7 separate regions of the Homo sapiens genome follow, and regions 1, 2, 4, 5, 6 and 7 are each linked to region 3. Evidence: fine-mapped expression QTL. A gene starts in region 3. Each other region holds a variant in brackets. All regions are shown on one strand. Distances are from middle to middle.

Evidence for each region. PIP is the estimated chance that this variant, and not a neighbour inherited with it, causes the effect. A credible set is the group of variants that fine-mapping cannot tell apart.
Region 1: its variant is the best candidate, but not a certain one, in a credible set for the expression of ITGB1BP1 in whole blood (TOPMed, PIP 0.58).
Region 2: its variant is the best candidate, but not a certain one, in a credible set for the expression of ITGB1BP1 in whole blood (TOPMed, PIP 0.83).
Region 4: its variant is the best candidate, but not a certain one, in a credible set for the expression of ITGB1BP1 in whole blood (TOPMed, PIP 0.54).
Region 5: its variant is the best candidate, but not a certain one, in a credible set for the expression of ITGB1BP1 in monocytes after LPS (Fairfax 2014, PIP 0.82).
Region 6: its variant is the best candidate, but not a certain one, in a credible set for the expression of ITGB1BP1 in whole blood (INTERVAL, PIP 0.50).
Region 7: its variant is the best candidate, but not a certain one, in a credible set for the expression of ITGB1BP1 in lung (TOPMed, PIP 0.66).

Annotation. Positions count from the first base shown.
Region 1 is chr2:9,278,669-9,282,734 of GRCh38, reverse strand. It overlaps ASAP2 (ArfGAP with SH3 domain, ankyrin repeat and PH domain 2), which reads right to left. Exons shown (of 28, transcript NM_003887.3): 2 at 3,346-3,418. Among named protein-coding and RNA genes, the nearest start is that of ASAP2, 74 kb to the right of the region's middle. The variant G/A (reference allele first, on the strand shown) is at 2,436.
Region 2 is chr2:9,362,088-9,366,153 of GRCh38, reverse strand. All of the region lies in intron 15 of ASAP2 (ArfGAP with SH3 domain, ankyrin repeat and PH domain 2), which reads right to left. Among named protein-coding and RNA genes, the nearest start is that of ITGB1BP1, 59 kb to the left of the region's middle. RefSeq lists an enhancer at 680-974. The variant G/A (reference allele first, on the strand shown) is at 2,329.
Region 3 is chr2:9,421,333-9,425,395 of GRCh38, reverse strand. It overlaps ITGB1BP1 (integrin subunit beta 1 binding protein 1), which reads left to right and starts at 1,868. Exons shown (of 7, transcript NM_004763.5): 1 at 1,868-2,023. CPSF3 (cleavage and polyadenylation specific factor 3) reads right to left here and starts at 1,742. Exons shown (of 18, transcript NM_016207.4): 1 at 1,573-1,742. The coding sequence starts at 1,622. RefSeq lists enhancers at 1,506-1,555, 1,596-1,645, 2,516-2,565, 2,559-3,417 and a silencer at 2,076-2,375.
Region 4 is chr2:9,327,145-9,331,210 of GRCh38, reverse strand. It overlaps ASAP2 (ArfGAP with SH3 domain, ankyrin repeat and PH domain 2), which reads right to left. Exons shown (of 28, transcript NM_003887.3): 7 at 3,300-3,385. Among named protein-coding and RNA genes, the nearest start is that of ITGB1BP1, 94 kb to the left of the region's middle. The variant C/T (reference allele first, on the strand shown) is at 2,088.
Region 5 is chr2:9,372,968-9,377,033 of GRCh38, reverse strand. It overlaps ASAP2 (ArfGAP with SH3 domain, ankyrin repeat and PH domain 2), which reads right to left. Exons shown (of 28, transcript NM_003887.3): 17 at 2,090-2,279; 18 at 41-126. Among named protein-coding and RNA genes, the nearest start is that of ITGB1BP1, 49 kb to the left of the region's middle. RefSeq lists enhancers at 2,471-3,019, 3,020-3,568. The variant A/C (reference allele first, on the strand shown) is at 1,629.
Region 6 is chr2:9,486,806-9,490,871 of GRCh38, reverse strand. It overlaps IAH1 (isoamyl acetate hydrolyzing esterase 1 (putative)), which reads right to left. Exons shown (of 6, transcript NM_001039613.3): 6 at 1,130-2,725. The coding sequence ends at 2,543. ADAM17 (ADAM metallopeptidase domain 17) reads left to right here. Exons shown (of 19, transcript NM_003183.6): 19 at 354-2,386. The coding sequence ends at 695. Among named protein-coding and RNA genes, the nearest start is that of IAH1, 14 kb to the right of the region's middle. The variant T/C (reference allele first, on the strand shown) is at 2,405.
Region 7 is chr2:9,314,997-9,319,062 of GRCh38, reverse strand. It overlaps ASAP2 (ArfGAP with SH3 domain, ankyrin repeat and PH domain 2), which reads right to left. Exons shown (of 28, transcript NM_003887.3): 4 at 465-539. Among named protein-coding and RNA genes, the nearest start is that of ITGB1BP1, 110 kb to the left of the region's middle. The variant C/T (reference allele first, on the strand shown) is at 2,093.

The DNA.
Region 1 (4,066 bases), 140 kb after region 3:
AATGCTAATTTATTCTCACTGTTCTTTCAATCGTACATAAAATGAGCGCTCTTCCTATACAGGAATTGCCTTTGGTCTTTATTCTCGTGATCAAAACACTATGGGGACTTCTCCTTTGGAACCAGCTGCCTTCAGAGCCCATGACTGTAGTTACAGTGCACCGAAGCCAACTGTGGTCGCTGGCACTCAGTCCCTTCTTGAATATGCCTGACTTATTTCTGACATCTAGTTCTAAAAAAATTTAATCTATCCTTAGACTTCTCTACTAAATATATGCAAAAGAACGTGCTACTAAAAGCAGTTCTAAAGAGTTCTAAAGACACTGTGAATGATGTCATCAACATGACAGGAGAAAGTATCACGTTTCCTCAGGTGACTTCTTTGCAGTAGACAACGCTTGTTCCGAAATAAAGATTTCAGGATCAGGCTCTGGTTTTAGGACTTAGGACTTTTCAGGACTCAGACTCATGACCTTAGAATAACTCAAACTTGGCATGACATAATAGATGGCTAAAGGATGACAAAAATAGGAGACCCCCTCCAAGGTCACATGCCAGGCTGTTATGTGCGGGGCCTCAAAAAGGACATGAGCCCAAGGAGCTACGTTAAAATCCCAGCCCTGTCACTGTAGAGCTTTGTGACTTTGAACAAACTTCTCAACTTCCTTGGACCTCAGTTTTCTTTCATAAAGTGGCAAATGCTATTTTAAGCAAACAGCAGAGCATGAGCAGAGGGAAGAAGGCATAAAACGTGGCTCTCTGGGGAAAACTGCAAGTTATTTCAAAGAAGGGCACAGAGGAGTCCAGGTGGGGAGGGTCGGGACAGGTGGCCTGAGTCCAGGCAATGCACAAGAGCTCGGAACTCATCTGGTGCTCTGCAGTATTTACTCACCTGAGGCTCACAGTGGGGTGATCAGGGGAGGCAGTGACAGTTTCATCGACAGATGAATTGGGAAAGGGTTAAGAACGATAACCACTCACAATCCACATTACTAGCACATTAAAATCTTTGGATGGATCTGTGGTAAGAGAACCATCTTTATCCCAATTGCCCTAAAATTCTGAAGCCCACAGAGGCCTTCCTTCTCTCTCCCATGCTCTGGAACTGACTTCCACGAACTTCAAAGAGGGTGATGAAAAAATGCTATAGAGTTTTAGGCAGAGAAGTAACACCAGTGGGGTTGCATTTTAGCAAACGACGCTTGGGGGTGGTTAGAAATAGGAATGAGGTTTGTGGTACACGCTCAGCAATATAGGTCAGCATGGCAAATTAGACAGAGGTGCTGTTAAATTCCTGCAGGCCAGCTTCCTGACACCGAAGCACTAGCGCCTTCTCCCTTCAAATGCAGGGCTGTTTATAAGCTGTACTGCCAGCCACTGGGCCAGCCTTGGGAGTCACACAAGTCTCTCCTCCAGACGAGCAGCAGCTACACAGCCAGTGTTTGCATAAGACACAGATTATTTCATTTTTATTTCTGATAAGAGCAACCTTTTCAACATATGACTATAAAATCATTTTTGAGTCTGACCAGAATATCAAATATCCCTCAAGTTATAAACTCAAAAAGTCCAAGTGAACGCAGTAAAAAAAAAAAAAATCTTCCAAGATACTTTTTGAAATCTGGTGCTTGTCAATGAAACTGGGCGTACCATTTCTTAGTGACTCACTGAAGTCTTCAAGATGTCACCCGTGTGACAGACACACTGAAGGCATGGTGGCTTTGAAACAGAGTGGGCCACTCACTGCACACAACCCTGACACAGCAGTAAGACCATCAGGGTCTGAGCTCCAGCTGCACAGACATCTTGGGAACACCCAGAACTCTCTGATTTGCAGGTTACTCATTTGTATAAGGAGAATCAGTTGTTGACAAGATTAGCACAATGTACAGAAAGCACAAGATACACAGTAAGTGTTCAAAAAAATCAAAACTATCATTATTGCTCCCTGCCCCACACTTAATCCAGGTAAAAAAGCTAGAGACGGATGGCCACCTTCTGTATCAGTTTTAGAAAAGGCCTGTCAATTTCCGCTGCTGTAATTCTGACTGGGGTTGGGGTGAATCTTCAGATCAGTTTGGGGAGGCCTGACACTAACAGTGGTGACTCTTCTAACCCCTGTGCATCACATATTTCTCATTTAGGTCTTCTTTCATTTTGGTCAGCAGCGTTTTGTACTTGTTGATGTAGGATTCCTGTGCGTCTTCTGTTAAATTTGTTCCTAAATACACTTGGCAATGCTCAACTGTAACATTATCCTGCACCTGGGATTTCCTGCTAGATTCTTCCCGATTGTGGCTTGCACAGCTCTCATGGGGGGAGAATCAAGAGCGGCAACTGGAGCTTGTGCCCGCCCTATTGTAACTGGTGGGGGCGGTGGGGGGGAGCAGGTGGAATGTGTACTTCCAGGCTCTTCCCCTTCCCTCCTGACACCAC[G/A]ACCATCTAAGGCACTCCCTGTCCTCCTGTTCCAATCACCCCTTTCACTAAAGAAAGACACCACGAGGGTGAGGGGACACAGTATAGATGAAGGGACCTGACTACTTCAGTGGGAGCAGACCCCAGGCCCCTCCTCCTCCCACCCTGTCACCCAAACTCTATCTGCACCTGAGCACGGGCAAGCTCCCCTGAGCAACCCATCAGCCCTGTTTCAGTCTCTCAGGGACTCCTCACAGTTCCTAGCCCTGCAAGGATGCCACCTTTTTGTTGCTGAATGAAACTATATAGTCACTTAACGACTTTTAAAAAATATTTTGTATCACTCGTAGGATTTGTACAAGGGAAGGTATGCTACAGGTGACCTACTTGTCATCTTTAAGCCAAAAGTTGCATGGGTTTAAAAAATATATATGTGTAAATATATATGTGTAAAAAATATGTATGTGTAAATCTAGATCAAATATTACTTTATGTTTGTCTATTTATTCATTTTCTTCCTATACTAGAAAAGGCAAGACTGGGTAAAAGAGAAACGGAAAGGGCACTGTGACACAATTAACAGCAAAAACCAAATGACAGAGGCAGGAATGAATCCAGGCCCCCATCAGCCAGGCTGACAAAGTGGGTACGTGCAGGACGATGCTCCAGAAAACAGGAAGTGCAACGTGGGACAGACAGCACGGAGGATGACAGGGGATGACAGGGGACGAAATCCCACACCTGAATCAGACGACTGGCAAAACAAAACATACTTCTGAAAAAGAAACATCCCAGCTCACCTCTGTGATCTGCATGCCCCGATAAAGGAGTCTAGCTGGCTCATTTGTTAATGGTCATCAATATTACGGTACCAGGACTTCAAATGCGACATTTTCCACACAGAAACCTCTAGGGAAGGATGTATACTCACCCAGCCCAGAGCTGTTGATTGCTTTCACGGATTTCTTCATTTTGTAAAGAACCATCCGGTCCACGTCCAAAGCCTAAAATGTAGAGAATACAGTCATTAAACCGTGTCTGTGCTGAGACCACGCTAGCAGCGAGCACCACGTTGAGTGCCACTCTGATTGCCTCTGCCAGGTCCCTAGGCACCTGTTTCTGGGAGACAAGCCTCCTCTGCCAGGTCCCTCGGCACCTGTTTCTGGGAGACAAGCCCTCAGTGTGGTGTGGAAGACTGGTTTCCAAATGGCACTAAGCAGAAGTTTGTTGGCAATTACTGAAAACCAACTCCTCCTCCTGCAGCATGCAAGCTGTCTCCTGCCCACAGCACCTGCTGGACGTGAGCCCTCTGCAGCGAAGTGAATTACTCCAGCCGAACCCTCCGTTCTCCTTGGTTACCAGCAAGGCTCCAGGATGCCCCTGCCTGCCAGGGACTCCTATCGTGCCTGCACCCCTTCCCCCTATAGAGCCCTAACAAGGTGGAGGCAACCCCACTCTGGATTTGGAAAAACCCAAATATCATTAGCTTGTAAGCTGTGTTAGAAGACGGGTCCTATTGCTTCCCGAGCCTCAGATTTCTTCTCCAGAAACCAGCAGGAACAATACCCACTTTGCAGGGTTGAATAATTAGATAGAGGTACTCTCATATATAATATTCAGCAAATGTTTATAGACCAGCTACTACACGGCAG
Region 2 (4,066 bases), 59 kb after region 3:
GTTTCAGCCCATAGAGAACCCCTCCAGACCCATCGACAAAAGCAAAGCATTTGCAAATGGAGGCTGCAGGTGCCAGCAGGACAGGCAGGCAGAAACCAAGGGGGCAGGAAGGTGGCTGTCGACCTGAGCCCTGGCATCTCCTGCTTCTCACTGGCACCCAGAAGGAATTTGTGGGCTGCACTGAGGCAGAAATTGAGCCAGACTGGATGGAGGAGAGGAGGGAGTGTTTAAGTTCTGTATCACCCAGGGTAGCTCAGCCCAGTCCGTCGCCCTTCCTGTGGCCTCAGGAGCACACTCTGAGCCCCTCGTCTGTGCTGGGCATGAGGCATGAGGCACCCTCCTGCTCTATGGCAGCTCACTTCAACAAGGTAGCGATGAGTCAATAAGAAGCCCTGGAAAAGAAGTTCATCCTGAACACTATGAGGACAGCGGCACCAGGCCCAGATGAGCAGAGCAGTCCCTTGGCCAGGAGGCCCCTTTTCTTGGCACTCACCATACGGGGGAGTCGTCTGTGTGTGGGCATCTCCCTCCCTGATGGCCACACCCAGGACAGAGACACAGAATCACACACCTGTACGTCCTTAGCACCTACCTGAGCAGGGCCCACTGAGCCAAAATGAAGCTTTAGGTTTTATCTGGACATTGTTTTGAGAGTTTGGGGTGGGGCAGGGAAACCTCCTGTCCTGTTTTCATGTCTCCATGAGGAAGGACAACAATTGCTGTGACATTCTTCTCTGACTCACCCCAGGAGAGAACAGGCAAGTGAGAGAAACCAGACTTCCCTGACCGCTGAGCTCAGGAGACCCCAAGGTCAGCTCCTCCCTGATGTTAACTGGGCCCCTTGGATCCCCGAAGGGTGGAGGGCCTGAAGAGTGCAGTCCAGCTCTAAAGTACAGAGGGTAAAGGCCCAGACAAGGGAAGGGGCTTGACCAAACTGCTGCCTCCAAAGCAAAGAGCACAAAAGGACACTCTGGTGTGCAGGGAAAAAGTTTACATATGATGTCTTTACCTGACCCTTTAAAAGCTCTATTTTTGATGTAGTTTACAAAGTATGTATTTCTTAGTAAGTGTAGGTACATCATATGTAAGTAAGTACATGCTTTGGTGCTCAATTTTTTCTGATAGACTTTGTGGTTTAAAAAATGTTCAGAATCTTGGCTTTAAAAAAAAAGGCTAAAACACAGGCTCTGGAGTCTGATAGTTGGAATGTAAATCCTGCACTGGGTAAGTTTCTTAACCTCTCTGGTCTTTTTTTAAAAATGGAGCTCTCCATTTAGGTTAGATAATACAGTGTACGTAGAACACCTACAACAATGCCTGGAGCATAACAGTTCCTCCGTAAATGACCACTGATAGTCAATTTCCTGTTGCCCTAAGCAATTGCTTTTAGTATCTGGGTGGCACATTTCAGTCCTAGGTGAACTTAGAAGACAGTTGTAAGTCGTTAAGTTCTTCGTCTTTGAGGAGCTTTCCTCTCCACATGCTCTCTTTCAGATCAGACTGTGTGTTGACCCGCTTTAACATTTGACAGCTTATTAACAACCGTATGAGAACAGAAATAGAAGAAAGTCAAGAAACAGAAAGCTGAGTCAGTAAATATTTGGTAATGCTCTTGATGCCTGTTTTTTAATTTGATGTTTTTTTGTTTTGAGACAGGGTCTTACTCTGTCACCCAGGCTGGAGAGCAGTGGCACAATCTCAGTTCACTATAGCCAACCTCCTGGGCTCAGGTGATTCTCCCACCTCAGCCTCCCTGATAGCTAGGACCACAGGCATGTACTACCATACTCAGCTAACTTTTTTTTTTTTGTAGAGATGGGGTTTTGCCATGTGGCCCAGGTTGGTCTTGAACTCATGGGCTCAAGTGATCTGCCTGCCTCAGCCTCCCAAAGTGCTGGAGCTATAGGTGTGAACCACTGCGCCTGGTCTCATAAGATTTTTAAATGACTGACTCAAATTCAATTTCAGAATATCAAGAATTCCTTTATTAACTTCATGTATGATAGTGAAATTGATCATGATAGTAGTACCCTAGTACCAGTGATACTGTTTTTCATATGACCTGAAAAATCAAAGCTGAAATCATGATCTTCTACATTAAGAAGGAAATTTATCTTTTTAAAATCTGTGTTTACCAGAAAGTTTTTCCCAAAGTAGGTTTGCTTTAGAATCTAAAGATATTAAGCTGGTGTGTGCTAAAGTAGTTAAGATGACATGATTCCCCAGAACTAATTAATAATTCAATTATGCAACTTCCATTCCATTGGAAAAGAAGTAATGCTAGGCTGCAGGCGGTTCATGCCTATAATCCCAGCACTTTGGGAAGCC[G/A]AGGCTGGAAGACCACTTAAGCCCAGGAATTCCAGATTAGCCTGGCCAATATAGTGAGACCCTGTCTCTATGGAAAAATTTTAAAAAATTAGCTGGGCATGGTGGCACATGCCTATAGTCCCAGCTACCCAGAAGGATTGCATGAGCCTGGGAGGTAGAGGCTGCACTGAACCGAGATGGCACCACTGCACTCCAGCCTGGGCGACAGAGCAAGAACCTGTCAAAAAAAAGAGAAAGAGAAGACCTACAAATGACCAACAGGTATATGTATGAAAAAGTACACAGCATTAATCATACAAATCATCAGGGAAATGCAAATTAAAACCACGATCATCTCACACCTGTTAGAATGGCTTTTATCAAAAAGACAAAAGATAGCAAGTGTTGGCAGGGATGTGGAGAAAAGGGAAGGCTTGCACACTGGGTGGGAATGTAAATTATTATAATACAACCATTATAGAAAATGGTTATGGAGGTTCCTCGAAAAACTAGAACCACCATATAACCCACTTCTGGGTATTTACCCAAAAGATCTGAAATCAGTTTGTTGAAGACACGTCTTCACCATCTTGTTTACTGCAGCACTATTCACAATAGTCGAGATAGGGAATCAACCTAAATGCCACCAATGGACGAATGGATTTTAAAAATGTGGTATATATACATAATGGAATACTATTCGACCTGAAAAAAAGGACATTCTGTCATTTGTGACAACATGGATGAACCTGAAGGACATTATACTAAGTGAAATAAGCCAGGCAAAGAAAGACAAATCCTGCAAGATCTCATTTATATGCAAAATCTAAAAAAGCTGAACTCATAGAAGTAGAGAGCAGAACTATGGTTACCAGGGGTTGGGGGTGGGCATGTTGGTCAAAGCATGCAAAATTTCAGTTAGGATGAATAAAGTCTAGGGATCTAGTGTACAACACAGTGACTCTACTTAATAATAACGTACTGTATACTTAAAAATTTTGTTTTGAGACAGTCTCACTCTGTTGCCCAGGCTGGAGTGCAGTGGCAAGATCACAGTTCACTGTAGCCTCAACTTCCTGGGTGCTCAGGTGATCCTCCTGCCTCAGCCTCCCAAGTAGCTGGGACCACAGGTACTTGCCACCACTCCCAGCTAGTTTTAAAAAATTATTTGTAGAGATGGAGGTCTCCCTATGTTGGTCAGGCTGGTCTTGAACTCCCAGACTCAAACAATCTTCTCACCTCAGCCTCCCAAAGTACTGGGATTACAGGCGCCGGCCACCACACCAGGCTCAAGAGAGTAGATTTTAAGTGTTCTCACCACAAAACATAAGCATGTGAGGTGACAGATATGTTAACTAGCTTGATTTAGTCACACCCAATGTATACAACATACTAAAACATCATGTTGTACACTATAAATACATGCAATAAAAAATTAATTAAAAAAATAAAATCCTTTGCTGTCACAGCATGTCACCCTGAAACAGAGGCTGTTCTATTTACCCAAAAGAGGAGAGATGCTACTCCTGTGAGAGAACCTGTCCAGGCTGCACCCACCACTCTCCTTTCACAAGGCACCAAGGGGCCTAATGAACACTCACTATACAATAAAACATACTTCAATAAGCAAGTCAGCCGAGGCCCTGCATGGCATGCAACTCTGAATTGGAAAGGTTCGTAAGAACAGACAACCAGACAGACCATGCATGGCCTCCCTGGGGGTTCACATGCTAGCACATGGGGACCATTTTTCTGAAAG
Region 3 (4,063 bases):
GCCAGGAGAGATTTTCCTAAAACATAATTCCCACAATATCCATGCTTGCTTAATAGCCTTCGCTGGCTCCCTGTAATTGACTTGATAAAGGTCCAAACTCCTGTGTATACGAGGTGCTTCCTAAACTGGACCTCAACTGCCTGTCGCTTCATCTGCTAACTCAACTCTTTAGCTACAGCCATGAGGAATCTGGCCACAAGCTGTGACCACTCTCACTTTCATATGTGCCACTTCCACTGCCTAGAACATCCTGGGCCCCCCAGTCTTTAACTCCTACTCATTCTTTAGGACTCAGCTCAGGCATCACATTTTTCAGGATCCACGAGGTATCCTTTTTTCCTCAATCTGTCAGAAATCCCTTTTCCATACTTTCACAGTGCTCAGTGCAATGCCTGCCTGCGTTCTTAGATTAGCTATTATTTACAAAGCACCTACCGCGATGTTCACTCTTCAAGTTTTATCTTATTTCCATATGAGAAAACGGGTTCAGTGAGATTGTTGTCCTACTAATTGGTCAAGTAGATAATGGACTTCAGGTCTGACTTCAAAGTAATAGTCTCCTATTATTCCAAAGTATCTCTCCAATATTTCCCACTGTGCACTGTAATTCTCTCCAAAAGAGCGAGAGCAATTAACTGGGCCCTCTGTTGCGTCTATATCCCCATGTGTGGTGCTTGACACTTGCTCAGTGTTTGCTCATCACAGGAAGACATGACAGGTGTGAACTAAGCAGAAGGAAACGGACTATGTCCCAAGCAGGTGCTCAATGAAGCCTTACTGAATGATTGTGTAAAGGAGATACTTTCTACCTTTTGGAAAGCGTATATTCATGTTGTGCCAACTAGTATCTAACAATAAACATGTTGTGGGTTCGAAATGCTCATCTGTAGGAATTCAAGTTCTCTACATTTGCATCTCCCCTTCAGCAGCATTCCCGACTGATGAGGATCGTGTCCACTGAAAGGCCACTCTCCTTATGGACAGTCGAGGGCTGAGTTTTTGTCCCTAACACCTCTGCACTTTCTCTTCTCCAGCTTTACACCTTCCTTATTCTACTAGGGCCTGAGCTGAGAAGATCGAAACTCACGGCAAGTCCCTAATATTTTCTAACTTCTGGCACATGTGAAGCCCTGGTGTTAAGAAACAGACTTAATTCTTCCCTGCACGGCTGTAGCCTCATTCAGGTCCTCCTCTCATCCTGTCGGTCATAAGCTTCACCGGCTCCCTCACAGCTTGCCCTGACGCGCAGAGATCCGTGCTTGTGCTAAGTGAAAACGCTTCTTAGCGTGTACGAAAGCGAGCGGTGGCCCCGTAAAACTTTTTTTTTTCCGACTCCAACATACCCTCCCCTGAAACTGATGAAAAAGCAAAATCCCGTTCACTCTATAGCAGGCCCCTTCCGATCAACGGTCCTCCAACCCCTCGAGCCTGAGAAGCCTGGCCCGCAAGCGCGGACCAAAGGCAGGCTGCCGGGGTAGGTGGGAGCGCGGGCGACGGAGGAGGCCAGTCTCCGGTTACCCCTCGCGCCCCTCACAGCCCGTGGCTTCATTCCCTCTCTCGCTGGTCCCTTACAGGGGTCGGATCAGCAGCTGGTCGCTCTCCTCAGCAGGAATCGCAGACATCCCGAAAGTGTGAGGGCGAAGCGGGGGTGAGGAACAGGTCGCCGGGGTCTTCCTAAATTGGAAGCACAGCCACCGGTAAATAAAAAAGGAAGAACCCCATTCACCAAGAGCACAACTTCCGTCACTCCGGAGCCCGCGGCACTAGACTCCTCCCCTCGACTTCCGGTCGGGGGACGCCGCTCGCGAGGCTTCCCACCACTTGGGGTCTTGGAACCGGGGGTAGGACGTCAGGACTGCGCCTGCGCATAGTCTTGGAGGCGCGGCCCGGCGGACGTGGGCAGGAGGGCTGGAAAAGCCGGCGCTGGAGCGGGAACGGGAGTAGCTGCCTGGGCGCCAAAGGCCGCGGCACTCCCACGCGGACCCCGAAGTCCGCAACCCGGGGATGGGCCCGCGGCTGCGAGGTGAGCGCCCAGCCCTCGTCCCGCTTGGGGCCGAGCTCGCGGAGGCCTGACGGGAACACGGTCCCGAGAGCGGCGCGGACGGCCAGGAAGGATGGGTGGGGCCGCGGGGCGGGCGGAGGAGGGATGCCTGGGCTCGGGCTTGGTTCCGGGCGGGGCCGCGCTCCCGGGGCGCGGGTGGAGGAGCTTGGAACCACGCAGATCGGGCGTGGGCTTGCGGACTGCAGCTTCCCGAGCCGCTGTCGCCCCGGAGGGGCGGCAAGGCGGGCGGCCGCGGGCCGTTTCCTTGCCTCTTCCTCTGCCCCGCTTCGGCCGCCTCCCGCCTCTCAGGGTCGGGGTTGTCTGTCCCCTTCGCTGTCACATCCTCCGCACCCAGCGCTTGGAAGGTGCTCCATCACGGTGACAGACAGGTGCCAAGCAGGCTGGCGTCTGGGAGGAACTTCGGAGCCGGCTCTCCCTAGGCCCCGAGCTTGGCCGCATCCGTCCTTACTCTGGTGACCCTGGGCAGGTCACTGACTCTTCGGGCGCTTTGGCATCCTCGTTTGAAAGGGGCTGTTATCCTGCAGCCTTGCTGGTCGGTGAGGGTGAGGGTGAGAGGGATCTGTGCACCTAGCACCGTGCATGGCACGTGGTAGGCGTTTGGTACATGGGAATCGCTGTTGGGGTGTCACCTCCCCAGAAAGTTCTCGGCTTCAGTAAGCGCGTCCCCTGCCAGGCGCCCTGGCAATGCAGAGGAGTCACCGAGCTCCGCCTTTGACCAGCGTGCAGCTGGGAGAGTGAGATCAGAGACCACAGCAGATCGTGGCGCTGTGATCAGGGGGTACACTCAAGCTGTGGGTCCCTTACCCCAGCCTTGAGATCCCAGGAAGGCCTGCAGCCTGAAACGGGCCTTGAAAGGTAAGAAGTAGCCAAGTGCCTGACAGGTGAAGGACGTCCCGGGCGGTGCAAAGCAGGGGCGCGTGGAGCATCGCGCTGAGAACCAGGAGCAGCTTTGCCTTGCTGAGATCAATGAACTGTGCCCGGGTTGTGGAGGATGGAAGTGGAAAGGTGATTAGGAGCTGGGTCCTGGAGGACCTGGCGTGTCGTGCTGAAGAACGTTGACTTTGGTCTCTGACTTTGGAGAACCAGTGAAAGATTTTCAGCAGGCTAGTGGCATTAGATTCATGTTTGAAAGAAATCATTTTAATCGTTTTGGCTGCAGTGTGGGGGTAGATTTAAAGTGTTAGGGAATCCAGTAGGACAAGGTCCCTTATCCACGAAATATCCTTGGGTTTGTGAATTCCTTAAATTCATGCCAAACTTTGTATGGATGTGCATTTTTATAGGGTGAGGATCCATCACATTCATCAGTTTCTAAAAAAATAGTGTCTGTGCCCATGGTTTAGGATGACGGGGGCCCTGGTGGAGAGCTGGCTCAGAGAGCTCTTCAGGTGGGGTATACAGTGGGTCTTGGTGCCAGATTGGATGTGGGGCCTGAAGGACAGCAAGGAAATCATGATTTTCTGGCTTCCTCCAGCAATAATAGAATCTCCTGACAGGGAGAGGAGAGGAGAGGAGCAGATCTGGAGGGGAGGATGATGGGTTCAGCTTGAGACATCTTTGCATTTGATGAGCCTGCGGAGCATCCAATCGCCAATCAGGATCATTGGCCTCATTTTGATGCATGAATAATTTTTTTTTTTTTTTTTTGAGACGGAGTCTCGCTCTTTCGTCCAGGCTGGAGTGCAGTGGCGCGATCTCGGCTCACTGCAAGCTCCGCCTCCCGGGTTCACGCCATTCTCCTGCCTCAGGCTCCTGAGTAGCTGGGACTACAGGCGCCCACCACCACGCACAGCCAATTTTTTGTATTTTTAGTAGAGACGGGGTTTCACCATGTTAGCCAGGATGGTCTCGATCTCCTGACCTCGTGATCCGCCCGACTTGGCCTCCCAAAGTGCTGGGATTACAGGCGTGAGCCACCCATGAATAATTTTGAGGCAAGAATGATTTGCTTGAGAACATGCATCAAAATTGCAGCAGATATCAAAGACTTTAATAAATGCT
Region 4 (4,066 bases), 94 kb after region 3:
GGTTTACACAGTGGCCTCTTCACCCTGGCGGAGCACAGCAGTGTGCAGAGGCCCGCGTGTACCCAGCAGGGCACAGCACCCAGCAGGCAAAGCTGTGCCCTTGGGGGCGAGAAGCGGAAACTGGGCGTGTGTGGTGGGGGAATGAGAGGCGCTCCCACACGTGGAAACACGCACGGCTGCGAGCTCTTACTCTGCAGCTGAGTTGCTCGAGCTCCACGTTGTACCCTCCAGAATGTGAATTGAGAAAGTCAAAGCTGCCTGACTGATTTGAAGAGCAGGCAGCGTACACACTCTCTCTCATATCCAAAAACGAAGTAATGGAAGATTCATATTTTTAAAGGTTACTGGGATCATGTCCATAAAAGGCCAACTACTTCACTTTTCCACAAGTGGTCTGTTGCTACCCAACTGACTGGTTTGGGCAAAATAAAGGGGCGGGGGAAGGAAATCCCAGAATAGCTTCTTCTTAAAAATAAAATATCAGCAAGGAAGCGACCCACTTCCTAAATTGCCTGACATAAGAACTGTAGAAGTAATTTGCATGCTCATCACAAAGTAAGAATTTTGAGTCTCCATAAAATAATTCATCTTGAAAACTATATAATTGCAAGGTCTTTTCCACCAAGTAGAGATGAGCTCTCTTTTTATATTTTTTAATATAAATTCATGGGGTACAAGTGCAGTTTTGTTATAGGCCTGGTGGTCAACTTAGGGCTTTTAGGGTATCCATCACCAGAATAACATACATTGTACCTACTAAGTATTAATAATTTCTCATCATCCCCACTCCCTTCACCCTCCTGAGACTCTGCTGTCACTCTACTCTCTACATCCATGGGTATGCCTTTCTTAGCACCCACTTAGGAGTGGGAACATGCGATATTTGTCTTTCTGCGGCTGGCTTGTTTCACTTAAGATAATGACTTTCAGTTCTATCCCTATTGCTGCAAAAGACATGATTTCACTCTTCTTTTTTTTAAATGGCTGAAGCTCTCTTTTAACTTTGGATGAACCACTCAGCACATCCTCCTTTGCCGCCTGACCTCAAGTGCTTTAGAAATGCAACATCATCAAAGCTGTATTAAGAATTCCAAAGCAGAGCTCAGTTCAATTCCACAGTGCAATTCACTGCTGCAAATACGTGCCAGGTAAATGTGCCACACACTGTAGATATAAAACAAATAAATGGCATGGCCCCTTCCTTAAGAGCATATAGTTCAGTGGCACAGAGACACAAGGAAGATGTCATCATGGAGACAAGCAGACGGTGTGGTGGCAACACAGGAGGAAGAAAAGGAATTCCAAAAGGAAGAAGCATCGCAAAGCAGGAATGATCCATAAGCTGGGTCCTAGGAGGAACAGAAGACAGGGAGGGCACAAAGGAAAGAGGCCTTCTAGGAAAAGAAACAATTCTGTACAAAGGTAGGCTGCTGGTGGCACAGCCTGCTCTGGGAAGGTAAGCAGACAGGCATGGCAATTCCACAAGGAAAAGATTTCTTGTCAGTCCACACCTTCCACTCCCGCTGTCACGAAGCCAGGTGGGCCATCGTCATCTCTGGTCTGCACAGGGACAGGAGCTGTGTACACAAGCAATTGCCCACATCCACCCTTGTCCTGTTTGGTTCCTTCTCCACAACACACAGAGTAATCTTGTTACAGCCGAGAAGCTTCCTGAAGCTGCTTCTAACCAACACCACTGTCTCTCTCCCCATCACTGTTTTGCCTTTTCATAAACTCAGTTAAATATTGGCTCGTGTTTCCTACTTGCCTCCCCCATGAGACCCCAGGGTCCGTGAAGGCAAGAACTTTGTTTTCCTCCTTACTGCATCACCAAAACCCCTAATAGCGCCTGGCAGATCACAGGAGTGCATACAAATGGTCCTCTGCTTCAATTTCTTCAAGAGCTTCCCAACATATTTGGGATAAAATCTAAAAACTTTTGCAAGATGTCTGGGGCCATCCACATCCCTAAGGCTTTTCCATGCAGTTTCGTTTCACGCCACTCTCCTTTTTCACTGAGCTTATGTCACCTTGGCCTTTTTCCTGCCTTAAGACCTAGACCCTGCCTGGAATGTTCTTCCCCCACT[C/T]CTTATCTGCCGGCTCCTACTCATACTTTAGATCTCAGATCCATGTCTCCTCAGAGAGGCCTGCAGCTCATTCAAGAAACAGCCGAGTACCTACTGTGTTCCGGGCACTGTGTGCTGGCTGTTGGAGACTGTATCAGGGAACAAAATAGAAAAACAAAAAACAAAAAACTCTACCCTAAATCTTTATCTAAATCAGGTCCCTGTATTATATTCTTTCTTAGATTCCTATACTTTAAAACAATTTTGTAAACATCTAATTAGAAATTTGTCTCTTTCAGTCTAACTTCCCTACTTGACTCTTTGAGTAGGAACTATGCCAGCACTGTACATCACTGTGTCTCTCGCCTCTGGTCCAGCACCTGACATGTGTGTTGGGTGGGTGAGTGAAGGAGCCAGAGGCCTGTCTATATCAGTGACTGGGGGTCGAGGAGCAGAAGCCAGGTCAGAGACGTGGGTCAGACTGAAGTACTGACACAGATGGCAAAGCTGAGTACTTGAGCAGCCCCTGCACGTGGAATCCTCTCCTTCTCCTCTACTAACATCTTCCTTTGCTCATCACAGTCATTGGCTCCACAGGATAATATATAAAAGTGTTTTCTTATTTTAAAACACTGCATTAACATCGTATCATTTCTCTTTTAACAAACATCTGAGAGTTGCGGAATAGGTCAAATGAGTTTGTCCCTCTACAAAAAGAGCCAAAAATAAATATATCTGGCAATTACTACAGATTTTTTATGTTGTATATATGCTTTTATTTTTAATTAAGATATAATCCCTAAGCCATAAAGCCATAAAATTCATCCTTTTAAAGTGATTTTTAGTAAATTCACAAAGTTGTGCAATCATTAGCACTCACTTCTGGAATATTTTCAATATCCCACAAAGAAACCCTATACCCGTTAGCAGCCATTTCCCATTTCCTTCTTCCTCCAAGCTGCGGCAATCACTCACCTGCTTTCTGTCTCTGTGGATGTACTTATTCCTGACCTTCCAAATAAATGGGATCATACAGTACATGGCCTCTTGTGTCTGGCTTCCTTCATTGAACGTGTTCTCAATGTTTACCCGTGTTGTCGCATGAGTCAGCACCTCATTCCCTTTACTATAGACTTCTAAGTGGTGTTTATTTCCTATGAGCTATCTATAGATCTACCAGAAGTTGCCACACATGAACAAACATTTAAGATAACATAACAGAGAAGAACTTACTTGCATTGGGCATGAAAGTATTTGATCAGATTCTGAAGTAAATCTACTCCCTTTTTAATCTTGATTTCGTTGACCTTCAGCAGATACTGTTGAACAATGAAAAGGAAATGTCATGGAAGTAAGCAGAATACGAGTTTAAAAGGAGCTTCTGAGGACTGAGATGATTTCTTCTACTTCTTTGGCATCTTTTACAATGCGTAGAGTGCATGATCGACACTTAGTATCGCCTGGATTCCGTAACCGTTTCTTTATTTTGGGGCCATATGAATTATCTGACAGTCAGATAATTAAATATTGAAGTGCCAAAAACTCCTAATAATAAGACAGTCTATCCTGGCCTGCTAGGAGAAATCTTCACTCTAGCTACATGGAAGACTATGGATGGTTCAAATAAATGGGATTTCTAACCATCTCAAACACACTCCTGCCCAAGGTCCCTTACTTTAGGAACAATAACTGCTAACGTATTGTAGCTGAGATGCTTGGCATCATGTCTCTCGTCCTGAGACATTTCCCTTACAAGGAAAATAATGTGATTGTTGGAAAAAAACAAAGTTTAATTGAAATGAATTAAAGCTATTTTTAACTTGGAGAATTCATTAGTGACCACGAAGCTATCAGAAAGCCTCAGGGAGCTACAAAACCAGTGTCAGGAAATAGAAGGACTTCATGAGTCCCCATCCCCTCCGCTGTCAGAAGATGATCTCTGAAATGGAATGTCCCCTGGAAAAGCTGCTGATTCATGCCCTGGCTCTCAGCTGTAAAGG
Region 5 (4,066 bases), 48 kb after region 3:
AGGAGAAAACGAGTGCCTCCCTTAATTTCAGAACACCTACCTGTTCTGAACTAAAAAGTCTACAATGTGAAGAGAGGTTCGATCCACGGATCTGACTGCAAGGTGGAGGGCCGTTTCATCCGGCTCCTGAAAAACCAAACAAAGGCATTCCAGAATTCTAATGGGAGCATTCAATTCTGTGTCCAACACCGGTGAAATCGTGTACAACTCTTCCAAAAGTCTTTTATCTTTCCCTTCGAGAAACTTATCTCTTACATAGAGTCTCTTTAATCTCTACACAAGCTCTTTGCCCTTGGGAACGTGCAATTTGGAGATTCGTCCTGTTTCTCCTGACTCCATGGGAAATAAATGAGAAGTTCAGGAGTTTCATTTCTAAGTCCTCTCAATCGACCTGTCCCCATCCCTGCATCAGCACCACAAGGCAGATCCCTGCCTGCAAGCAAGAATCTTGTTCAAAGGATCCAGGAAGGTCCCCCAGGCCACCTACAATCCAATCTCTTTACCTGCTCCTTGAGTAGAAACATATGTTTCTTAAGCAGGCTTAAAGTTTTGCGTTCTACACTTACAGACAAGGCTACGAATGCTAATAACTGCACTGTCTCCAACTCATACTGGGGATTCCCCAACTCCACTGCCTTTTCTGAAAGTACACCTGGCAGGTGGGGGAGAAGAGATGAACAAGGATTGTTTCAGCAGGTGGGTGGGTGAGAGAACCAGAGGAGAAGGACAGATACAGAAGACAGGAGGTGAGGGCAAAGGAAGGTGCTTCCCAGGCCGCCTGCCCTGCCTGCTGGGCCCTCTGGCGGCAGCACAGCTCAGTGCTGGGCACCCTCCACACTGCATTGGTGGGCATGAGTTCTTTCTGGGGATGGGGAGAGAGTGGGACCAGCTCAGAGCCTGCACGGACATGCCTGTTACCAAGAGAAAGATGCTGCAGCCGTGAGGCATCCTTGCTGATAGGCAGCCAGCCCAGTCCTGAGGTCAGGAGGTTCCAGGGGACCAAATGTGCATCTACAGGGTATTTGTGGACCAGAATCTGGACACATGCCACCCCACTTGGGTGCTGGTATGTTACTGCAAACCCACTCCAGCTGGATGCCCACCCTCTCAAGACAGCTCCCCCAGGAAAGGAGGGGTCTTGCTCCTACTCTATTCCCTCTGAGGGGGAGCACAGTGGGGTGTGGGTTCCAGGGAACCGCCCCTCTCAGAGAGCTTCTCTCGTTAGCATGAAGCTCAGGTTAAACCTGCTTGCAGATGAGGGGTCCCTCTCAGGCTGCCTAGCTTCTGAGATGTCTTCTCCTCCACCTGGAGATGGGTTTTCTTTCCAGAGCTGGCATTACATTTTTGGTGTAAGAATAAACCACTAGGTGGGTACAAAGTTTTAGACAAGGAGAATAAATCCTGCAGATCTACTACAAAGCCTGGTGACTCCAGGTAAGACTACATAGCGTCTATTTCAAAACTGAGTCGATTTTAAATGTGCTCTCCATTAAAAATGGATGAGCCTGTGAGGTAATGGATATGTTAGCTAGCTTGATGTAATCATTCCATGATGTAAACATAGATCAAAAACATCACAGCATACCCCATGAACATAGATACAATTATTTTCCTACTGAAAAGAAAAA[A/C]CCCTAGTTTATTCTACCCCAGTACCCCTCTCCGTGCCGTCTTCCTCTGGAGAATTACCCAGCTTTGGTCAGTACTGCTGATTCCACAGACCTGCCACAGTGCCCCAGTTTTCCTTTTTTTTTGAGACAAGGTCTCACTCTGTCGGCCAGGCTGGAGTCCAGTGGCACAATCACGGCTCACTGGAGTTTCAAATTTCTGGGCTCAACCGATTCCTCTCACCCCAGCCTCCTGAGTAGCTGGGACTACAAATGTACACCACCATGCCTGGCCAATTTTACTTTTTTTTTTTTTTTTTTTTGTAGAGATGGGGCCTCCCTATGGTGCCCAGGCTGATCTCAAACTCCTGAGCTCAAAGGATCCTCCGCCTTGGCCTCCTGAAGTAAAGTACTGGATCCCAGGCATGAGCCACCGTGGCCGGCCTTTTTTTTTTTTTTAAAGTAGCAACAACCCACACTCTTACATGTCCGTTGGCCAGTGGGATTTTTTCCGTAAGATCCACACCATCAGCATAAGCTTGGAGCAATCCAAAAATATCTCTCGTTTTGACGGCCTCGCAAAGACTGTGAAGCTTCGCCGCGTTATCCGCGTGCTTCTTCCTTGCGTATCTCCTCTCGATGTACTTGGCTGTGATGTAGTCCTTTCTTGCATTCCTGAAACCAAACGTAATTGCCTTGCAAATCATGAAGGGCTTCTACCCGCCGTCCGGCCTCCCTTTGTCTAAGGCCATGTTAACGGTTCCTGCGCCATGTCCCTGGTAAGCACCGCTGGCCCCGAAACACAAAGCGGGAGTGGCCGCCATGTGGTTCTACGGCTGCACTGGTCTTCACTGCGACCTCCTGGGAACTGGCCAGGGGGACAACTCCCCATGTTCTCTCAGCCCACCCGCCTCTCTGCCTTGTCTCCCTCCCCTCACTCCTAAGTTCTGTGATCTGACCTCACTGTCGCCCTCGTCACCTCCACACCCTTCTTATTCAGGTCCTTCCAATCCGCATGCCCTGCGCCTCCTCCCCCAGGAAGGCCCTGCCCCTGCCCTCCATGCAGCCCTGGCCAACCTCTGTTCCAACATTCTCTACATGAAGGCCTGCCTGCCTCACTGCCCGACAGGCCCATGAGCTCCTTGGGGCATGGACTATGACCTCTTTTTTGTAGGCACCATGCCTGGTATGAAAGGCACTATCAGATGAACTGAAATGAAATGGCAGTCCTCTTTGTGTTCTACTTTCTGGCCTTTATGTGGCAACATGCTCAGACTCCGCCCCATCCAAAGAGCCTACAGAAGCAGGAACAAAAGGGGGCCAAAGAAGCCTGAGTTCAAATCCCACTCCCACCACACACTGCTGCTTTGAACTTGAATAAGTATTTCATCTCTCTAGACTTGTAAGTCTGACTTGCGAAAATGCACACAATACATCCTCACAGTAGCACCATGAGACGTATGTGCGTCAACACACCTGCAGCACACACAGTGGGTCCCGGGCCTTGGAAAGACCCAGTGAACTTACAAGAGGGAGAGCGAAACAGCAGCTCACTGGTCACAGAGTACATGCATTTTACAATCCCAATTCTGAAGGTTGAGGGTCACTGCCCAGGGACTCTTTGAATCTTGAGAATCAGGCAAGAGCCAGGCAGGGGCAGATCAGTTGCATCCATTTGTAACACAGCACTGCCTACAATCTGAGGACAAATGCGGCTGCTCCCCTTCGAGCTGGAGTCCCCGCACGGTTCCCTCCTGACCTCCGCTCTCTCACTCAGCTGACTATGGCAAGGGGCCATGGCTGCTGGAGCAGTTGTTGACTTTTCTGTACCTGCCCTAAATCCCCGTGGAACAACTGGCCCCCCAGAAGGGGAGCCTGAGCTCCCTGGACATGCCACTGGAGGCAGGGAGTAGAGATCCTGTCTACCCTGGGGTCCCTTGAAGATGGGCCAGCCTAAGATGAGAAGCCATTACTCCCACAGCACCCAGACGGAACTGAGTGGGCAGAGGTCTCTTGCCAGCGTCTGCCAGGCCTCAAATCTGCTTGTCCTTGGGTGCATGTGGCTCCTGGACACGCCGCAGCGTGAGGCTGGCTGGTGCAGCTGGAGAGGAAATCACGCCCCAGGGTGCCCGTTCCACCTGAGCAGGCAGCATGCTTCACAGCCCAGGAAGGACTTCCAGGGGCACCTGGTGAACTTGTGCTCTGGCACTTTTATCACACTGCCTCCCTCCTGCTCCGGCTCCAGTTCTGCCCGCTCTACAGGGCCTAGGTTAAGGCGGGTGCCTCAACGTCCCCCGGCACATGCTCCCCGTCCACACAGCGCTAACCCGTGCACTGAGCTCACTGCGGTGCTGGCTGACTTGTGTGTGAGATACGTGGTCTCAGTGGGTTCCCTCAACAGTGCCATGAGTTTTCATCTCCACCTGTAGGCACAACAGGCCCTCGAATAACAGCATTTTGTT
Region 6 (4,066 bases), 65 kb before region 3:
GGAGTGATTTAGCCATTCAACACTTAGTTAATATTTTGAGTTCAATTTCTCTCTTGGGATCTTACCTTGAGAGGTTTGAATCCTCTTTTGGGTCTTCAAATGGTAAGTAAGTTTTCAGGATGCTTGAAAGCTAGTAATTACTGTTTTTGCCATTAAAAGTAATGGCATTAATTACTTTTGCACCAACCTAGTATTTTTTAGTCACTTAGGTTGAGTGAGCCTCACCTAGCACTTTTTTCTTAGCATCACAGTGCCAACAGAATAAGAGGCTGTTTGATGGGTAAGGGTGGAGCTGTGAGGACCTCCGATTCATCTTTTATTCCTATCAATCAATTGAACCCATGTCTTTGCAGAACGTCGAAATGCTGAGCAGCATGGATTCTGCATCGGTTCGCATTATCAAACCCTTTCCTGCGCCCCAGACTCCAGGCCGCCTGCAGCCTGCCCCTGTGATCCCTTCGGCGCCAGCAGCTCCAAAACTGGACCACCAGAGAATGGACACCATCCAGGAAGACCCCAGCACAGACTCACATATGGACGAGGATGGGTTTGAGAAGGACCCCTTCCCAAATAGCAGCACAGCTGCCAAGTCATTTGAGGATCTCACGGACCATCCGGTCACCAGAAGTGAAAAGGCTGCCTCCTTTAAACTGCAGCGTCAGAATCGTGTTGACAGCAAAGAAACAGAGTGCTAATTTAGTTCTCAGCTCTTCTGACTTAAGTGTGCAAAATATTTTTATAGATTTGACCTACAAATCAATCACAGCTTGTATTTTGTGAAGACTGGGAAGTGACTTAGCAGATGCTGGTCATGTGTTTGAACTTCCTGCAGGTAAACAGTTCTTGTGTGGTTTGGCCCTTCTCCTTTTGAAAAGGTAAGGTGAAGGTGAATCTAGCTTATTTTGAGGCTTTCAGGTTTTAGTTTTTAAAATATCTTTTGACCTGTGGTGCAAAAGCAGAAAATACAGCTGGATTGGGTTATGAATATTTACGTTTTTGTAAATTAATCTTTTATATTGATAACAGCACTGACTAGGGAAATGATCAGTTTTTTTTTATACACTGTAATGAACCGCTGAATATGAGGCATTTGGCATTTATTTGTGATGACAACTGGAATAGTTTTTTTTTTTTTTTTTTTTTTTTGCCTTCAACTAAAAACAAAGGAGATAAATCTAGTATACATTGTCTCTAAATTGTGGGTCTATTTCTAGTTATTACCCAGAGTTTTTATGTAGCAGGGAAAATATATATCTAAATTTAGAAATCATTTGGGTTAATATGGCTCTTCATAATTCTAAGACTAATGCTCTCTAGAAACCTAACCACCTACCTTACAGTGAGGGCTATACATGGTAGCCAGTTGAATTTATGGAATCTACCAACTGTTTAGGGCCCTGATTTGCTGGGCAGTTTTTCTGTATTTTATAAGTATCTTCATGTATCCCTGTTACTGATAGGGATACATGCTCTTAGAAAATTCACTATTGGCTGGGAGTGGTGGCTCATGCCTGTAATCCCAGCACTTGGAGAGGCTGAGGTTGCGCCACTACACTCCAGCCTGGGTGACAGAGTGAGACTCTGCCTCAAAAAAAAAAAAAAAAAAAAAAAATTCACTATCTACAAACCTAGAATATTTAAAATACAAAGATTGCCTGTTTTCAAACACTATTGAATAAGAGGGTGAGATATTTCTTAACAACAACAACAACAAAAAAAACAGGTTGTTTTGAATGTGATGAGCCAGCCAGGAGATAGAATACTACCTGCCCTTAGGGTTGGGGGCTGTCCCCACAAGACTTGATACTTCAGAAACCCTTTTTATTGACCCACAAGCAGATATTTGAATTACTTCTTACTTTATTGCTCCAGGATTCTGGATGGGCTGCATTTACTGTGTGAAGGATAAAAATCATTAGCCTGGATTCTGATTTCTATAAATTGCCATTAAAAGCTTTTTTTCCCCTAAGAACTGAAATGTGCTCACCAGCCAAAACATTTTAACTTGTAAATTTTGAGGGCAGTTAACCAAACCTGTGACTAATCATATCTCCTCCTACCCCCCATTTCCAAGGACATTTGTTACTCAGATACTTGTTATACTAATACTTGAACTTGTACCTTATGGTATTTGCTATCTTTTAACTAGTCATGATATTCTTATACTTTAGTTACACTTTTGGAATTTGATACAAGGTTGAGTGGGGTGTGTGGGTGTATGTATGAGTGAAACAGTTCTCAAAAGAATGTAAGAAAAACCATTTTTATAAAATTGTGACTTTTTAAAAACATAGTCTTTGTCATTTATAGAATTAACAAGCTGCTCAGGGTATATTTTATAGCTGTAGCACTGATATCTGCATTAATAAATACTGTCGAAACACAATGGACCTAAGTATAAAAC[T/C]TCCCTGAAAAATCATCTAATACTTTTATTATTAATATCAGTGGCAAAGGTTTAAGCCTGAGGAAAAAAGCGTACCTCTACGTATTGACAACTTTGAGTTCTGTAGATAACAAGCAGATTTGGGTCTCCTGTGATTGGCTAATGGTCTCCATCTCCCAGCAGACTTAATTCAGGTTTTGCTTCTGCTACATCCCGCCAGTAAGGAAGCAGCAAAGGTAGAGAAGAGACCTTTTTCTCTATCAAAGGCCAGAGATGCGAGAACAAAAATTCATTCCCCTTTGGAGACAAATGTAGTCCATCTGATAAATAAGATGAGAAGTCCTAGAAGGGAGAGAAATCGGTTAAAGGTGGGTAACTGGCCACGTGTGGTAGCTCACCCCTGTCATTCCAACACTTTGGGGCCGAGGATTACTGGAAGACAGGAGTTTGAGACCCTGTCTCTACAAAAAATTTTAAAAATACAAAAATTAGCTGGGTGTGGTGGCAAACACCTGTATTCCCACCTACTTGGGAGGCGAAGATGGGAGGATCACTTAAGCCCAGGAGTTGGAGGCTACAGTGAGGTATCATTGCACCACTGAGTTCCAGCCTGGGTGATAGACTGTCTCCCCCCACAGCGCGCGCGCGCGCGCGCACACACACACACACACACACACACACACACACACACACACACACAAAAAGGCCGGGGAGGGAGGGTATAACTTTTCTAAATGCCAGTGTGTACCATTCTCTCATTTGTGGCCCTGCGACAGAAATATCACCAGCCCCTTTCATTGTAGGCATCTGACCAGAGGTGTCTTGGACTACAGTAGCACTGATGTGCTATTTACGTAGGTGTTTGAACACACAGAGAACCCTGACTAGTGCTATAGTGCTGTCTCCATATTATAGAATTGAGTTTCATGAAAGTCACTCACCATTAAGTGAGCTGGGACCTCATTCCAGGTCTTCTGAATCATATGACATGATTCTCAGGTTATTTGAAAGAACCTTAACAGGTAAATATGGCCTATTAACGTAATCAGCAAAAATGAAAAATTTGGTATTAGGAGTGTTCAGGGGCCCCATGAGTCAATATTGTTTTTGACTCTAGGCAGGTTTTTAGGCAGAAAGAACTTCTACCATCTAACCTAGAACAGTAATTGCTGGGACACAGGAGTCCAGTCTCCCTCCCATTGCCCTGAACTCAAGAGTACATATTTAAAAAGATACACATATTTTTGGAGACAGGGTCTTGCTTTGCTGCCCAGGCTGGAGTGCAGTGACATGATCATGGCTCACTGCAGCCTCAACCTCCTGGGCTCAAGCGATCTTTCTAACCTCAGCCCCCTGAGCAGCTGGGACTACAGGCACGTGCCACCATACCTGGCTACCTGGCTAATTTTTGTGCTTTTTGTAGAGATGGGTCTCTCATTATGTTGCCCAGGCTGGTTTTGAACTCCTAGGCTCAAGCAATACTCCCACCTTGGCCTCACAAAGTATTGGGATCACAGGCATGAGCAGCCATACCAGGCCCTGAACTATAAGAATTTTACCCATACAGCCATTTCTTTCTTGGGGAAGAATCTCACTAGCCAAGAGCTCTGTTAGAATCTGGGTGGCCAACTAGCTTATGTGACTTTTTTTTTTTTTTTTGAGCTAGAGTCTCACTCTTGTTGC
Region 7 (4,066 bases), 110 kb after region 3:
TGTCCTAAACAGCCAACATCCTCTGAAGGACAGAGAGACAAAGTTGGCTCATGCCTGACGACTGCGACCTTCCCAGCAGGAAAATACACCCTTGCTAGGATCCTTTCCCAGTGCTAAATGGGCAACGTGCCAGCTAGAAAGCCCGACTCCTCCCACAGGTTTCCCTGCTCCCTGGAGAGACCGAAACTCTTTACTTTTTCCAAAATAGCAGTTTTCTTTCCCTTCCCAGTCTCCTCCCCTCACCAACTTTGTTGTGCCAACAGGACGGCCAGAAAGGCCAGAAGTCACCACCTTTTTGGCTGAAAGGTGGTCCCAAGATGGCAAATCAGAGGAAGCTGAGATAAAAGAGCCATCCTATCGTCCCAATGAGAACGTACTGGCGTGGCTGCTGCCCGGCAGGCCAAGCTACTGTGACTCTACATGGTGTAAAAGCTGCCCCTGGTGTCACAGTGTCAATGTCATACCCCTTTCACTCCTTTCAGGTCCCCCTTCAGCAAACTGTCCAAAGGGAAGGAGATTATGTTGTTCATATTCTGAATCTAAAAAACAAAAACAAAAGGAGATTCTTATTCAGCTTCCTTGTGAATCTAAAGTAAGGACAGCAAGGACATTAGAGAGAACATTTGATAATGATTCACCTCCACCTAAAACCTGGCCGGTGCATGTACTGTGCCTTATTCAGTCATACATTCTTTGTAACAATTTCATCTTACAAATGAATAGAGGGCTAATGAAAAGTCTAGGTCTGTATATATTTCACAGTAACAATCTTATATTGTTATGCTAGAAAGTTTGTAAAGAGACAATCATTGCAGTGAAGAAAAAATATTTCAAAACATTCAATGACAGAATTACGTCGAAAGCCTAGAATAAAAGGAAACCCCCACTTCTGACTCTCAATCACGGCTCCACCCATAAGCTGGACTGTACTGGGGTTGGTGCTCTGGGCCCCAGGCCCCAGTCTCCACAGCAAGCTCCAAGCAGGGGAAACAAAGGCAGAGTCTTCTGTCTGCTGCAAAGGCACACGAGCGAATGCTGGGTGCGAATGAGAAAAGACGTGTGTGTGTTGGGGACGGAGAGTGTGTGTCAATGAGTGTGTACGACTGAGTGAGGGTGTTGTGGGTGTGTAAAGGTGTGACTGTGCTTGAGTATAAGAGTGAATGCACATGAGGGTGTATGTGAGTGAATGTGGGTATGAGTGATCGTGTAGGTGTGTGAGGGAGCATGTTAAGGGACTAAGGGTGTGATTGTGTGAGTGTGTGAATGCGATTGTGTATGGGTGTGTGAGGGTGTGATTGTGTACGGATGTGAGTGTGAGTGTGGATGTGAGTGTGAATGTGATTGTGTATGGGTGTGTGTGGGCGTGTGAGGGTTTCAGGATGTGATTATGGATGTGAGTGATTGTGTAAGTGTGTAAATGTGTGTATGGGTGTGTGTGGGTGTGATTGTGGATGTGAGTGCGTGAATGTGATTGTGTACGGGTGTGTGGGTGTGTGAGAGTGTGATTGTGGATGTGAGAGATTGTGTGGATTTGAGTGTGGGGTGTGATTGTGGGGGTGTAAGTGGGTGTGTAAGGGTGTAAGTGACTGAGTATAAGGTGAATGCACATGTGTGTGTGAGAATGTGAGTATGTGTAGGTGTGTGAGGGAGCATGTGTGTGTTTGAGGGTGTGTGTGTGGATGTGAGTTGGGGGTGAATGTGAATGATTGTGTGAGGGTGTGTGTGAGTGAAGATATGATTGTGTGAGTGGATGTGGGGGGCTGTGATTGTGAGGGTGTGAGGGTGTGGATATGAGTGTGTGTGATGCACGGGGTGTGTATGAGTGTGGTTGTGTGATTGTGTGAGTGTGGATGTGAGTGGGTGTGATTGCGTGGGGTGTGTGTTGAGTGTGGTGAGAGTGTGGATGTGAGTGGGTGTGATTGGGATGTGTGTTGTGTGGTTGTGATTGCGTGGGGTATGAGTGTGGTTGAGTGTGTGTGTGGATGTGATTTTGTGTGGTTGTGTGGAGTGTGGATGTGAGTGATTGGGAATGATTGCATGTTGTGTGAGTGTGGTTGTGAGAGTGTATGAGAGTGGACATGAGAGGGTGTGA[C/T]GGGGGGTGTGTGGGAGGGTGTGAGAGTGAGGGTGTGATTGTGAGGGGGTGTGTGTTGGGGGGGTGTTGCTAGGCAAAGGAGATAAAAGGGAACAGGAAGGGCAAGAGCCTTGGTGCCCCCATTCTTCTCCCTGAAGCAAGAAGGCAGGAGAGTGGGGACACACACCGTCCGCATGGATTAAATTGGGTGGAATGGAAGCCTCCTAACCAACAGGTACACGAGGAGCAAGCAAGTCTCCGTGACAGCAGTTCAAATGCGAGTCAACTCAAGATGCGAAACTTCAGTCAGGAAGAGCCTTCAAGTACGGACTCAGAGCCCTGAGCCTGAAAAGATTCCCTCCCTCAAGTGGAAAACGAGCTCGAAACCCACTTTCGCACTTCCCAGGCTTGGACCACTCCCCTGAATCAACCCAAGGGCCAGTTCCCACTGCTGGGCCCCTGTGGCTTCTGTGACACTCTGGGCTTCTAGATTACAGGCCCAGAGAAGGAGAAGGACGAGAAGAGGGACTTGGGACCTTATGTATTCATTCATACCATCAAGCAAAGGAAAGTTTTATTTTTAGTATAATTATCTTAAATAGGAAGATAAAATGGCACCACTTTTAAAGCAATATGGCATCCGATTTCTATACACCATTCAGTGTACTAATTTTTTTTTCTTTTTTTTTGAAACAGGGTCTCACTGTGTCGCCCAGGTTGGAGGGCACTTCAGCCTCAACTTCTTGAGCTCAGGCGATCCTCCCACCTTAGCCTCCTGAGTAGCTGGGACTATAGGCACGGGCCAACATGCTTGGCTAATTTTTTTTTTGTAGTTTTTGTAGACAGGGTTTCACTGTGTTGCTCAGGCTAGTCTTGAACTCCTAGACTTAAGCAATCTGCCCTCCTCGGCCTCTCAAAGTGCTGGGATTACAGGCATGAGCCACCACGCCTGGACTAAATTTTACATTAGAAACAGAAATGTACTTGGAAAACACTGGTAAGGTGTATAATAACGTCTGCATCCACAGCCAATTCTGCTAAATAAATGATCAATTAATGACTGTCATTTCAGAAATAAACTTTTTTGGGGAACTTTTGCCCTAGGATTAAACAACTCAACATTTCTCACGTACCTGGCCTTCCTCCAAGGTACAATGTCATCAGCTATGTCTTGCTAAGATCAGCCTTAAGCATTAAATTTTTAAATGCTGAAAAGCGCAGTTTAAGGTGCGGTCTTAGGAACGACTGGAAGGAACAAGGACAAACAGAAGGCCGTGCTGATGAGTAACCTACGACAGCAAGCACGCCTAGATTTCCACTGTCATTGACAGTCCTGGCAGCCAGACAGGTGAGTGAGGAATGAAACTCCCGTCACAGTTCCCGCCTCCAGGGCCACATTTCCCTCTACTTGCAGGCAGCCCCAAGTATGCAGCCAGCTCTCCTTCCTCCAATGCTCTTCCTTCCTACAAAGCCCTCTCTCCCACCCTCCTCACTTGCTTGACACCCAAGAGTCATCTCTGACCCCAGTGCTGCCACCCAGCCGTGCGGCACGCTTCTCAACAAATTCCAGGTCTTAACCCTACATACGCAGACCCGTCTTCCAACATTCCCTCCATGCCATTCTCACGTCCACTGCCTTGGCTGCGCCTCACTGCTCCTTCTCAGGACTAAGGCTATGGCTTCCCCTGCTCCCTGCTGCCGCTTCCTAGTCTCTGCCTGCCCCACTCCCCGCTTCAGGGCTATGGCAGGCTTGTCTGGGGTTGTGTCCCTAATAAAGACTAAACTACTTATTCCTGCATTTCACACTCTCCACAATCCATCCTTATTTTCCATGTTTCATCTTCATATTTCTCCAAACTGAACTCTCTCCTTCCCTGATTCTACGCATGTGCTCAATTTGTTCTATTCGACGGAAACGTCTTCCCTATCCCTGCTGTTCAAAGCCTTCTCATCCATCAGGAGTTACTCAAACGCCACCTTCTCTACTAAGCAACC